Linked DNA regions of Homo sapiens. The protein of the gene in region 1 interacts with the protein of each later gene in a pairwise test. Each region holds a gene or a part of one and is shown in the gene's direction. Other genes may lie near its edges.

The links.
Region 2: the proteins of BIN3 (region 1) and TRIM69 interact in binary tests that used the Homo sapiens proteins (3 or more experiments, as listed by UniProt).
Region 3: the proteins of BIN3 (region 1) and TXLNA interact in binary tests that used the Homo sapiens proteins (3 or more experiments, as listed by UniProt).

The regions. Positions count from the first base shown.
Region 1 is NC_000008.11:22,634,622-22,638,277, reverse strand, and holds part of BIN3 (bridging integrator 3), read left to right. Parts: intron 1-1,315; coding exon 1,316-1,356; intron 1,357-1,691; coding exon 1,692-1,753; intron 1,754-1,765; exon of another isoform or gene 1,766-3,656. UniProt on the Homo sapiens protein: Involved in cytokinesis and septation where it has a role in the localization of F-actin.
Region 2 is NC_000015.10:44,756,989-44,760,644, forward strand, and holds part of TRIM69 (E3 ubiquitin-protein ligase TRIM69), read left to right. Parts: intron 1-1,624; exon of another isoform or gene 1,625-1,632; coding exon 1,633-1,866; intron 1,867-2,651; coding exon 2,652-2,674; intron 2,675-2,759; coding exon 2,760-2,884; intron 2,885-3,656.
Region 3 is NC_000001.11:32,189,537-32,193,174, forward strand, and holds part of TXLNA (alpha-taxilin), read left to right. Parts: intron 1-518; coding exon 519-713; intron 714-2,774; coding exon 2,775-2,894; intron 2,895-3,120; coding exon 3,121-3,195; intron 3,196-3,638. UniProt on the Homo sapiens protein: May be involved in intracellular vesicle traffic and potentially in calcium-dependent exocytosis in neuroendocrine cells.

The DNA.
Region 1 (3,656 bases):
TGTTGAATTAATCTAAATCCAAACGTGGAGTGCTAAGGTTAAGGGGCTTAGAATTCTCTCATCAGGTCAGCGTTGCTGGAAGACAGTGGTAGGAATAGCGTGGCTTTGACAGTTTCTGCAGATGTGTACTCCCTGACCCTCAGAGCAGAAGTCAGGATCTAGGGCTCTTGGGGACAGGATTCCCAGGGAGCAGCCAGGAAGACTTCTTTCTTGGGTCAGCAAATGCCTTCCAGGAGAATGATGGTTACGAACACAGGCTGTGGAGCCAGGCTGCCTGGGTTCCATTCCCACTGTGCTCAACTCTACCCCTCACCAATGGGGTGACCTTGGCCAGGGTACGTAACCTGGTTCCCGGTGACCTGCCTTGGAGATGAGTGTAGAGAACTGCATTCTTGTAAAGCACACAGTGAGGGCTCTGTGAATGTGAGTTAGCGGTTTTGACTTCTCAGAGCACGAAGCCCGAAGCTGGCACCTGACGGCTGCAGCTCTGGCCAGGGAGGGCAGGCCTCTAGCTTAGTCTCCTTTGCCTCTCGATGTCATTTACTTCCCATTGCATGCCCATAAGAGACCAATCATGAGGCTCCGTTTTACAGATAGTGAAGTCAAGGCACCAGAAGAAAGTACTAGACTTCTTAACTTCATCTTCCGCAACAAGTGCAGCCCCGGGTTCAGGACTCACCCATTTGGTTTCAGTGTTGCTGGCTCTCAAGAGAGTTGATACCCGGTCGGGAATGGAGAGAGCCTGACCTGAGTCAGTAGTCACAGTGTCTGTGTTTGATGCATCCCAATCACAAAGCACAGGTGCACGATTGTTCCTGACCCACCCTGAGCCCAGCAGGGGCAGGTGGCCCTGAGTGGAGGGCCGCGTAGGAGGGGAGGTGCCCTGCATGGACCTGGAAACTAGGAAAAGGCAGAGACAGACCCCCAATTCCAGACCCGCCCTCTCCTCTGCACTCTGCTGCCTTCCTGGATGGGGTCCAGTCACGTTCTGAGCACCCTGACTGCCTCCAGCCTGGGGTGAGGAGGGCATGCAGCGAGTGCCTTGCTCCCAGCTGGGAAGAGCAGAGCCACAGTCCGCTGGCACCTGCCTGGCTGGACCCTCTGGGAGGGGAGCCTTCCTCCGTAATTCAAACACTTAATTAACTTGGGATCTCAGAAATACCGTGTCAGGAGCGATCTGTCGGTGCTTGTGTGAACTGGACCATGTTGTTTTCTGCGGACTGGGGCAGGGTGTGGAGAGAGTTTCAGGAGGCTGGGAGGTTTTTTCCACCGTGTTGTCATTTCTCCGATAATTGAGTTATCTCTCTCGTTTCAGGTGGAGAGAGACTTTGAAAGGGAGTATGGAAAACTTCAGCAGTGAGTGTCAACCCCAGAAAGATGAGGTGGGAGGCAGGGAGGGACAAGGGCCCCCTGCCAGGTCTCACCTGTCTGCCCCGTGCCCTGCCCCGTGAGCACCCTGGAAGCTGAGGGCAGCTCAGGTCACCAGGCTGCTGGAACTGTTCCCTGGCAATGGCCATGTGAGAGTCATTCACTCATAGCCTTTGGGTGTAGTGGCACTTCAGTCAGCGGGAAAAGTCCCCGTGGAGAAGATCCCTTTCTCCTCCTCCTTGGCAGGCCCTCCAGAGCACCTGGGCTTCGCTCAGGTAGGGGGAAGGAAGGGGACCCCAAGCAGCCCGTCCCCTGCCTTGCAGGCTGGAAGAGCAGACCCGGAGGCTGCAGAAAGACATGAAGAAGAGCACCGACGCAGACCTGGGTAGGTGACTTTCCACCCGCACCACTCGCTTGAGCAGGTGGGGCAGAGGTGGGCACCCTCCTCTCTCAGCCCCCCAAGGGCTCTGAAGTTGCTGCGCTCAGAGGACGTGTACCCAGTGTCCTGAGAAGCAGCCTCAGGGCAGTCACTCCTCACCAGTCACATCCCACTTTGCACAGAGCTCGCACTGCCCCACTCTGGATGTGGGTGCTGGGGCAAGGCTCTCCTGGGACTCCAGTCAGGACAGTACAGCAGCTGGTGGAAGCTTCTGGTAGCAGATGCCTCCATTGCCTCAGAATCCTGGCCACCGGCTCAGGCTGTCCAGAGGGAAAGGGAAGCACATTCCTTCCCGCAGAAACGAGACTCCGTGGCCTGCTGGGACAGGCGCTCCAGTGGCAACAAGAATGGAAGCTGTCATGTGTTTAAACAGGAGGTTGGGTTAAAGTGTAAGGCCAGAAATACCCCAGATAATTCTATGATGACAAAGGGCACCGGGAGGTCCTTGGGAAGTGGGGGCCAGCAGGTGCTGGGAAACAGCCAGGGCCCTTGGGGAGGTTTCTTGGCTGGAGAGCTCTTGTTTGAAACAAGGAGGAACCAGGCCTGGGAGCCTAGAGACACAAGCAGGTCGGGAATAAGGGAGCATCCAGAGCCCTTGCTGCAGGCCATGTCCCAGGAAGGAGGCGACGAGCAGCCGGGAGAGATGGAGACCATTCCTTGAGGTTCTTTCTCCAAGGCCTTGACTTTCCCACCCCGGAGCAGCAAGCACTTGACCAAAGGTTGATCAATAGCTTCAGCACTCCCTGCGCAGCTCTGGACAGCTGACTTAGCTCTACCTCAGTTCCGTCACCCGAGAAGCACAGGTAACGCCAATCCGAGTGGCACAGGCTGTTGCTGAAGATGAAGTTGGATGAGCAACGTAAAGCACTGAGAACAGGGCCTGGCACGGGTCAGCTCTCGGGGTGTCCGCTCCTGTCATCACCGTCGTCATGGTCGGCAGCAAGCCTCCCTGACTGGGTGGACTCCTGCAGCTCCTTCCCTGGGTCCAGTGGGGAAGCCGTGTCTATATACCACACTGGGACGAGGACCTGAAAGAGACTTGGGTATGGCCAGGACTGCCCACTTCCTCTCACTCAGCAGATGCTGACCGAGAACCCACGTGCACCAGGCACTCTCAGCACTAGAGACTCAACAGCAAGACAAGATGGGAGCTTACGTTCTAGGAGGAAGACCTGCAAGAGGTCCACAAGCGGATCGGTATATAATGACACGTCGTGGCGTGCAAGGTCAATAAAAATAAGGAGGTGGAGAGTGACAGGGTCAAGGGAGGCCTTCGTGGGGACGTGATCCCTGGGCAGAGTCCTGAAGGAATGAATAACCCACACAGGTAGAGCCAAGGGAAGAGGGCCTGAAACACAGTGGACAGCAAGCGCGGAGGCCCTAAGGTGGTGCACGCTGACCAGAGATGCAGGAGAGGCAGCAGGAGGGTGGAGAAGCCATCTTCAGTCCCCTCGGCCACTCCAGCTGCTGAATAATGCCATGTTATGGCTGTGAAGAAATTTCACCTCCCTGAGCTTTTCTGACCTTGAGATTGGCAGGGCACATGACACACCCATTTTATAAATGGGCATGTCCATTTGATAAAGGAGGAAGAGTTCAGCTCCTCTTCTCCAAGTCCAGGGCCTTGTCTCCACAGCGAAGCCTCCCCATGCCCCACTCATTCCTTTGCCCACCCCCGTGCCCGCCACCAAACTAGAAGGTGACCGAAACAGCCCCCACTCCGGAACCGTTGCCCATCCACTCTTTGCTTGGCTGTCTGTGAGCCTAGTGCAAATGGGGCGGCCTCACTGTCTCCTGACACCATTCAAAGGGCCACAGGGCAGTGGGCACCTACGGGTGGGACTTGAGG
Region 2 (3,656 bases), on another chromosome or scaffold:
AGAGCTTTGGCAAATCAGTCCCTAGATTGGGGGTGCTAAATTGGAAGTTCTGTTTCTTTATTCATTATTCTATGGAGAAGAGCCTTCTCAGGTATTTGGCATCTGGAAGAAAAAAATATGCAGACTCAGGGAAAGAAGAAGGATATATGGAAGTAATGATGTCTTCAGAAAATCTTGTTCCTTTTGTAAAAGTTCCTATTAGTGTGAGCATTCATTCATTCATTTAACAAATATTTATTGAGTGGGTCAGGCATAATACTAGATATTGGGGATGGGAGACAGCTGTTAATTAAATAATCCCATGAGTAATAATAAAATAACAACTGTGATAAGTACTATAACTGAAAGTATAGGGTATGATGATAGCATATAAATGGAGAACATAATCTAGACTGGGGGAGGGGTGTTCTCTGAAGAAGTCACATTAAAAATTGAGAATTGAAGGATAAGTAACTTATCCAAGTGAACTGGGTGAGTGGGGATATGAAGGAGGTAGCCTGGAGAAGAATGTTCTAGGAATAGAAAAGAGTATCTGGAAAAGTCCTGAGATGGAAAGTTAGCTGCTATGTTAAACAGAGAAAAGGCCAATAAAGCTGGAACATGCTAAGCAAGATGATATTGATGAGGTGGATATGGGCTCACTGTAACCTCATACTCTTGGGCTCAAGAGATCTTCCCACCTCAGCCTCCTGAGTATCTGGGACTAGTTTGCCACACATGGCTAATTATTTTATTTTTGGAGAGACTGGGTCTCACTATGTTGCCCAGTCTTGAACTCCTGTTCCAAGCAATCCTCCCAGCTTGGCCTCTATAAGTGTTGGAATTACAGGTATGAGCCACTGTGCCCAGCCAAGACTATCTTAAGGTGCAATAATAATTATGGACCATGGGATCCAAGCTAGATAAGAGAGGACATGAAGGTAGAAGTTCCTGAATAGAAATGGAGGGATCGGTGAATAGGAGGTTTCAATGAGATCCAATAATTGTTGCAATAGGAGTATCTGAGTGAGCCTGGTGCATAAAAAGTTATTTTGGAGATGATACAATTGCTGGGGGTGATAAAATCCTAGGTGAGACTATAGGAATGAATCAATAAATGTGGAAATCACTAGAAATGAGGAGAATGAGGAACTGAGAAGCCAGGATGTCAAATAGTTTAACTGTGAGGATGTTGAGGTAACCCAAGGAAAAAGCTGCAAGTGTAACAGTGGCATTCCCCCAGTTCTGATTTCTAGGTAAGGACAGTTCTTCCAGCCTCCCAATACCCCCAGTCTAACAGTACCACTTGGCAGCTTTTGGATTACCAATCTAGGAGGGTATTATCTTTCATTCTAGAATGTTTGACTAACTCCACAGTCTTATTTAATATGGCATTGGTTACCATCTCAGTACTGCAATAGGAAACTGGAGGTCACTTTTGCCTATTTCATCCTGAACTATTAAATTAGTTGGAAAAGGAGTAAGTCTCCCAAAGGACTCATTTTAGTATGACTGAATTTGATATTCAGTAGCCATTTGTATGCATTTTTCTGTGATGGTATTTACCAAGTGTGTGAGTGTTGGTGGTGTGGGCCCCCATCCCCAAGCACTAGTCTCTGCAATAACCATGGTGATAATCATGGAGGTTTCCAGGAAAACAAGCTACATCTGCAGCAACATGTGTCCATGGAGTTTCTAAAGCTGCATCAGTTCCTGCACAGCAAAGAAAAGGACATTTTAACTGAGCTCCGGGAAGAGGGGAAAGCCTTGAATGAGGAGATGGAGTTGAATCTGAGCCAGCTTCAGGAGCAATGTCTCTTAGCCAAGGATATGTTGGTGAGCATTCAGGCAAAGACGGAACAACAGAACTCCTTCGACTTTCTCAAAGTGAGAATCCACACCAATATGATTATGGGTACCTTCCTACCTAGAGGGGGGAAGAGGTTTGGAAAGAATGCGGAAGTGGCTTTTCACATCCAGGGAAAACAAAACAAAACAAAACAAAACTGTTATAGTGCTTTTAAGATTCTCTGGAAGAAAAGGAGGAGGCTGCTTCAGCTATACGCACAGCAGAAAGCTTTACTTTCATCCTCTTAGGAAATACGATTTTTAAATTCCATTAATAATAGTATATAGTAATGGTTTAATATTTTTCCATAAAGAGCTTGATGCTTTATTTCTCAAAAATAAAAATGTTGCAGCCTGAGTTGTATCTTTGGCTCTCAGCAATCATAAGCTGACCTGTCTGAAAAGCTGTTTTCTAACCTTTGCTTTCTTAAGCTTCACCTCTAAAGAAGCGTTGGTTACCATCTCAGCACTCAGAAGTTTAATTAGCTAGAGTAAGGAAAAGTGGCCTTGGGACTGGGATACCTAATGTGTTTTTCTTCTGAGACTATTTGAAAGTATAGGTAAAGATAGCTTAACCTTAAGTATTGTCTTATTGGCTTCTGTCTTGCTCCCTGTAGAAGAGAACTCTAGAAAGAGCAAAAGATCAATTTAACCTGGGTTAGGATCAGGGATGAAGATTAGAAAAAGTGTATGAAGGATGAAAGAAGTTGGTAGAGATGAGTTCGGGACCATCTGCACAAATTCTGGTGGTGGCTGGTATCACCAAAGAAATTTTGAGAGTTGATGAACGGGCATCTGATGTCTCTCTTTCTCCTTTCTTCTAGGACATCACAACTCTCTTACATAGGTAAGTGTTTCCCTATGGTACTATTAATATCATTCCTTGAGTCTCTGGAGGATGTCTAAGGATAAATGATTTATGTGCCCTGCAGCTTGGAGCAAGGAATGAAGGTGCTGGCAACCAGAGAGCTTATTTCCAGAAAGCTGAACCTGGGCCAGTACAAAGGTCCTATCCAGTACATGGTATGGAGGGAAATGCAGGACACTCTCTGCCCAGGTATCAGTGGGTAGTAACTATTGGTTCTTGAGGCTCCTAATCTACGTTTAATCTGTGGGACTTCTTCTGTGGCCCTAATTAAGTTTTTACAGTCTGGGATAGGGAAGGGGTACAGTTTGGCCAAAAGGAGGCTAGTTGGTATGACTGAATTTCTTCTAGTACCATGACCTAAGAATTTATGACTTTGTGCTGGTAAATAGATATGAGTTTGATATCAGGATTACTTCTTAGCATATGATTTTGACTGATTTATGAAATGTGGCAACAGCCAAAATTTTATCTTGTTTTGCTAAATCAGCTATATGAATCCCAGGGGCTTCTCTGAAGAAGGAGGAGGTTTCTGAACATACTCTTTTTATGTACACTGGGTCTTTACAGTTTCTTTTGTGCTTGATGTTCATAGCGTAGAACATTTTAGAAGATTGTTTAGATCTTCAGTGCTTCAGAAGAAAACCAATAATTTAAATAAACATACCTAAGAAGGACACTAAGTTTTTGTGTTCCTGTAGATACCAAAGGACTGAGCAAGATAAAATAACACACATGGCATTTCAAGAACATCAAATAAAGTTCTAAATAAAAATCTTTATAGAAATAAAATTCTAAATAGAGTTTTTATAGAATTCATAGACTCATCATTATTATTATTGTTTATGGTTATTGATTTAATGAGAAATCACAAATATATCCCTGATTTAATGAAAAATCGCAAATTTTTCCAGGTAATTGACATTGAAGAAAAATCAACTATACTGAGATATAGTTAACATAG
Region 3 (3,638 bases), on another chromosome or scaffold:
CTTCCTTTTTTTTTTTTTGGGGACGGAGTCTTGCTCTGTGGCCCATCGCCCAGGCTGGAGTGCAGTGGCGCGATCATAGCTCACCACAACCTCCGCCTCCCAGGTTCAAATGACTCCTCTGCCTCAGCCTCCCAAGCAGCTGGGACCACAGGTGCACACCATCACGCCGGCTAATTTTTGTATTTTAGTAGAAACGGGGTTTCACCATATTGGCCAGGCTGGTCTCAAACTCCTGACCTCGTGATCCGCCCACCTCAGCCTCCCAAAGTGCTGGGATTACAGGCGTGAGCCACCGCGCCTGCCATGTGCCTGCATTTTTCTAGGGGGAGAATCTCACTTGATGTCACCTGATATACAGAGGGGCCCATTGGAACCCGCATTGCACAACATCCTGGAGTCTGGCTACTCCACGCTTTGGGAGCAGGGAGGGCTGTTGGCAGAGACCATCTGTGGACTAGCTGGGGGACCCTTGTGAGGTAGCAGTGGATGATGGCTCTCGGGCTGACTTCTTTGCCCAGGAAGAAGGTGTGCAGCGGGCCCGGGAGGAGGAGGAGAAGCGCAAGGAGGTGACCTCGCACTTCCAGGTGACACTGAATGACATTCAGCTGCAGATGGAACAGCACAATGAGCGCAACTCCAAGCTGCGCCAAGAGAACATGGAGCTGGCTGAGAGGCTCAAGAAGCTGATTGAGCAGTATGAGCTGCGCGAGGAGGTAAGGGTATCACGGACAGCAGTCATGGCCCAGAAATTGTGAGGTTTTGAGTGTGTGCTAGGCACTGGGACAGTACCTTTTCAGGCTTCATCCCATTCTCCCTTTCTTCCTCCTCCTCCTCCTTGGGAGGAGAGTAATGTTATTCCTCATAGATAAAAAACAGGTGTGGAGAAGAGACTCACTTACAGCCACACAGCCCCAGGTCCACAGTGCCTTGTCCCAAATGACTGGGCCAGGCATCTTTTGGAATTAGAACTATCCACATTTTAGAATGGAGGTACATGTATGGACTGTGTGTTATATAGCACCCTCAGCAGGGCCTTGGGGAAGCCAGACACATTAATGTATTTATGCAGTAGAACTTCCAAATACTCACCTACATTATGGGCTTACAATGATGCAGGTCAAGTCTGGCTGCCAGCTTATGACAATTTCCATTTTCAGAACTTTGTAGAATTTGGAATTGCAGGGGAGGGGTGTACCTGTGATCAGTGATGGACTCCAGAGACTGTGTCCACTGATTCCTTGCTGCTCCTGCCACTCAAAAGGCAGAATTTATCAGGCTGGGCGTGGTGGCTCATGCCTGTAATCCCAACACTTTGGGAGGCCAAAGCGGGCGGATCACCTGAGGTCAGGAGTTCAAGACCAGCCTGGCCAACATGGTGAAACCCTGTCTCTACTAAAAATACAAAAAATTAGCCAGGTGTGGTGGTGCACGGCTGTAGTCCCAGCTACTCAGGAGGCTGAGGCAGGAGAATTGCTTGAACCCAGGAGGCAGAGGTTGCAATGAGCCAAGATTGTGCTACTGCACTCTAGCCTGGGTGATATACCGAGACTCCATCTCAAAAAAAAAAAAAAAAAAAAGCAGGATGTCACTCCCTTTGTCACTGCGTTGGCTGCCACCCCAGGCACTTGAATCTTTGGATCTTCCCTGCCAGTCACCTGGCTGTTCTGGGCGCGTTCTCATCATGAGAAGGGAGACCTGCAGCCCCCTTACAGGGCTGGCAGAGGACCTGCTCTGGATTAGGCCCTTTCCTAGCCCCTGGGGTGTGGCAGTGGGTGAGACCGGGAAGATCTGCCCTCTTAGGTTCATAGGCCAAAGTGATGATCGTGTGTGCAGGACCTAGAGGGCGCTCCCCTGACCCACCCCTTTCCTTGCCATACTTCATCCTCTGGGAACAAAGCTGCTTGTTTGGTTTGAGGGGAGTTGGTTTGGTTCTTATCCCTCAGCGCTGAGACATAGAGGCTTCCTGGGCCACTACAGTGAGACACGAACTTCAAGAATCTGAATACCCCCGTTTTCTCTCCCCGCCAAGGCAAAAAAGGACTTAGTACTACCTGTGGAGAAGGAGGTGCAGGACTACCAGGCCCTGCTGCTTTGCATTTACAGCCCTCCCCAGACAGACACAGGCACCCTCATCATACCCAAACTGGACTTACCTGCTAGGCACCTTCCCTTCCCCATCCAAAAAAATGGAGTTATTTTCCCTTATTTCAGCAAGTCCAGTTGATTTTACCTTTGAAGTAGCACCTGAGTCCTTCACCTTCTCTCCATCCCTTCTCTCTCACCTGACACAGGTCTGCAGCGCTCCTCTAGTAGGCAGGACAGCCATTCCTTGGGGATGCACATGTCTAGTCTTTGCCTAGATATGGCAAGTCTTTGCCAACTGAGCTAGGCTGTTATGTTCTTAGAGGCATTGTTTTTGCCCATTCTTCCCATTTACAAGAGAATCAGGGACACAGAAGTGAGGGCTTCCAGCCCCATAGGTGATCAATCCTGGGGTCAGAGATTTGAGTGTGTTTATTGCTTGCCTTCTTGGGAGCAGATTCCATCCATAAACCATGTGCTTACCAAGGTCTGACTCACTGGGAGAGAAACGACGTGAGGTTGGAAAGCTGACCTTCCAGAGACTTGGGGCCCATGTTGTGTGGTACACATGGGAGTCCATCATATCAGATTGAGATGGGGGGCTGGGCAAAGTGCCCTGGTCTGTGGCTGTGGGGCTACCCTGAGAAAGGGAGCGCCTGACAAGCCGACTGCTCCCACCATCTTTGTTGCAGCATATCGACAAAGTCTTCAAACACAAGGACCTACAACAGCAGCTGGTGGATGCCAAGCTCCAGCAGGCCCAGGAGATGCTAAAGGAGGCAGAAGAGCGGCACCAGCGGGAGAAGGATTTTGTGAGGCTCAGGCCCCAGGGTTGGGGTGGGGGTGGGAGGAGACAGGCTGGGCTCTGGCTCAGCTCATAGCCGGGTTATATGGGAGAAGTCTGGCCAGACCAGGCACAGATTCCTTGAGTACCAGTCTGAGAGCAGGAAGCCTCAGTGGGTCTGGTGCTTGTGGCTAAAAACCAAACATAGCCCCTGGGGGCTTCTGACAGGATCTGGGGTTCTGTCTTGGAAATAGCTCCTGAAAGAGGCAGTAGAGTCCCAGAGGATGTGTGAGCTGATGAAGCAGCAAGAGACCCACCTGAAGCAACAGGTGAGAGCATATAACCTGACCCTGTGCCTTCAAGTTTCCCTCACTGGGCCCCATCCTGGGGGTAGTGAAATGGGACCCTCATTCTAGGACTGGCTGTGTCCTGGCTGCTATGACGCCTTGGTTGAGCCTTTGTTCTCTCCGGACCTGCACAGTACCTATGTGGTGGTGACCAGGTAGTTAGGTGGGCTCAGAGGACTTCATTTGTAGCTCAGAAATGTATTGCTTTTGAGGAGGTAGGAACAGAAGAGTTTGAAAATCAACATAAAGGCAAAATAAAAGTCACCCTAAGTCTCCTACTTTCCAGGCTTAGCATTTTGGATTATATCCTTCCAAATATATAGCTTTGCTTTGTTTTAAGGAAAAATAGTATCTCAATAGAATTACTGGTCAGAGAGTCAAGGACGGGTCTGAGTGTGTTGACCAGAGTGCCTCCCAGAGAAACC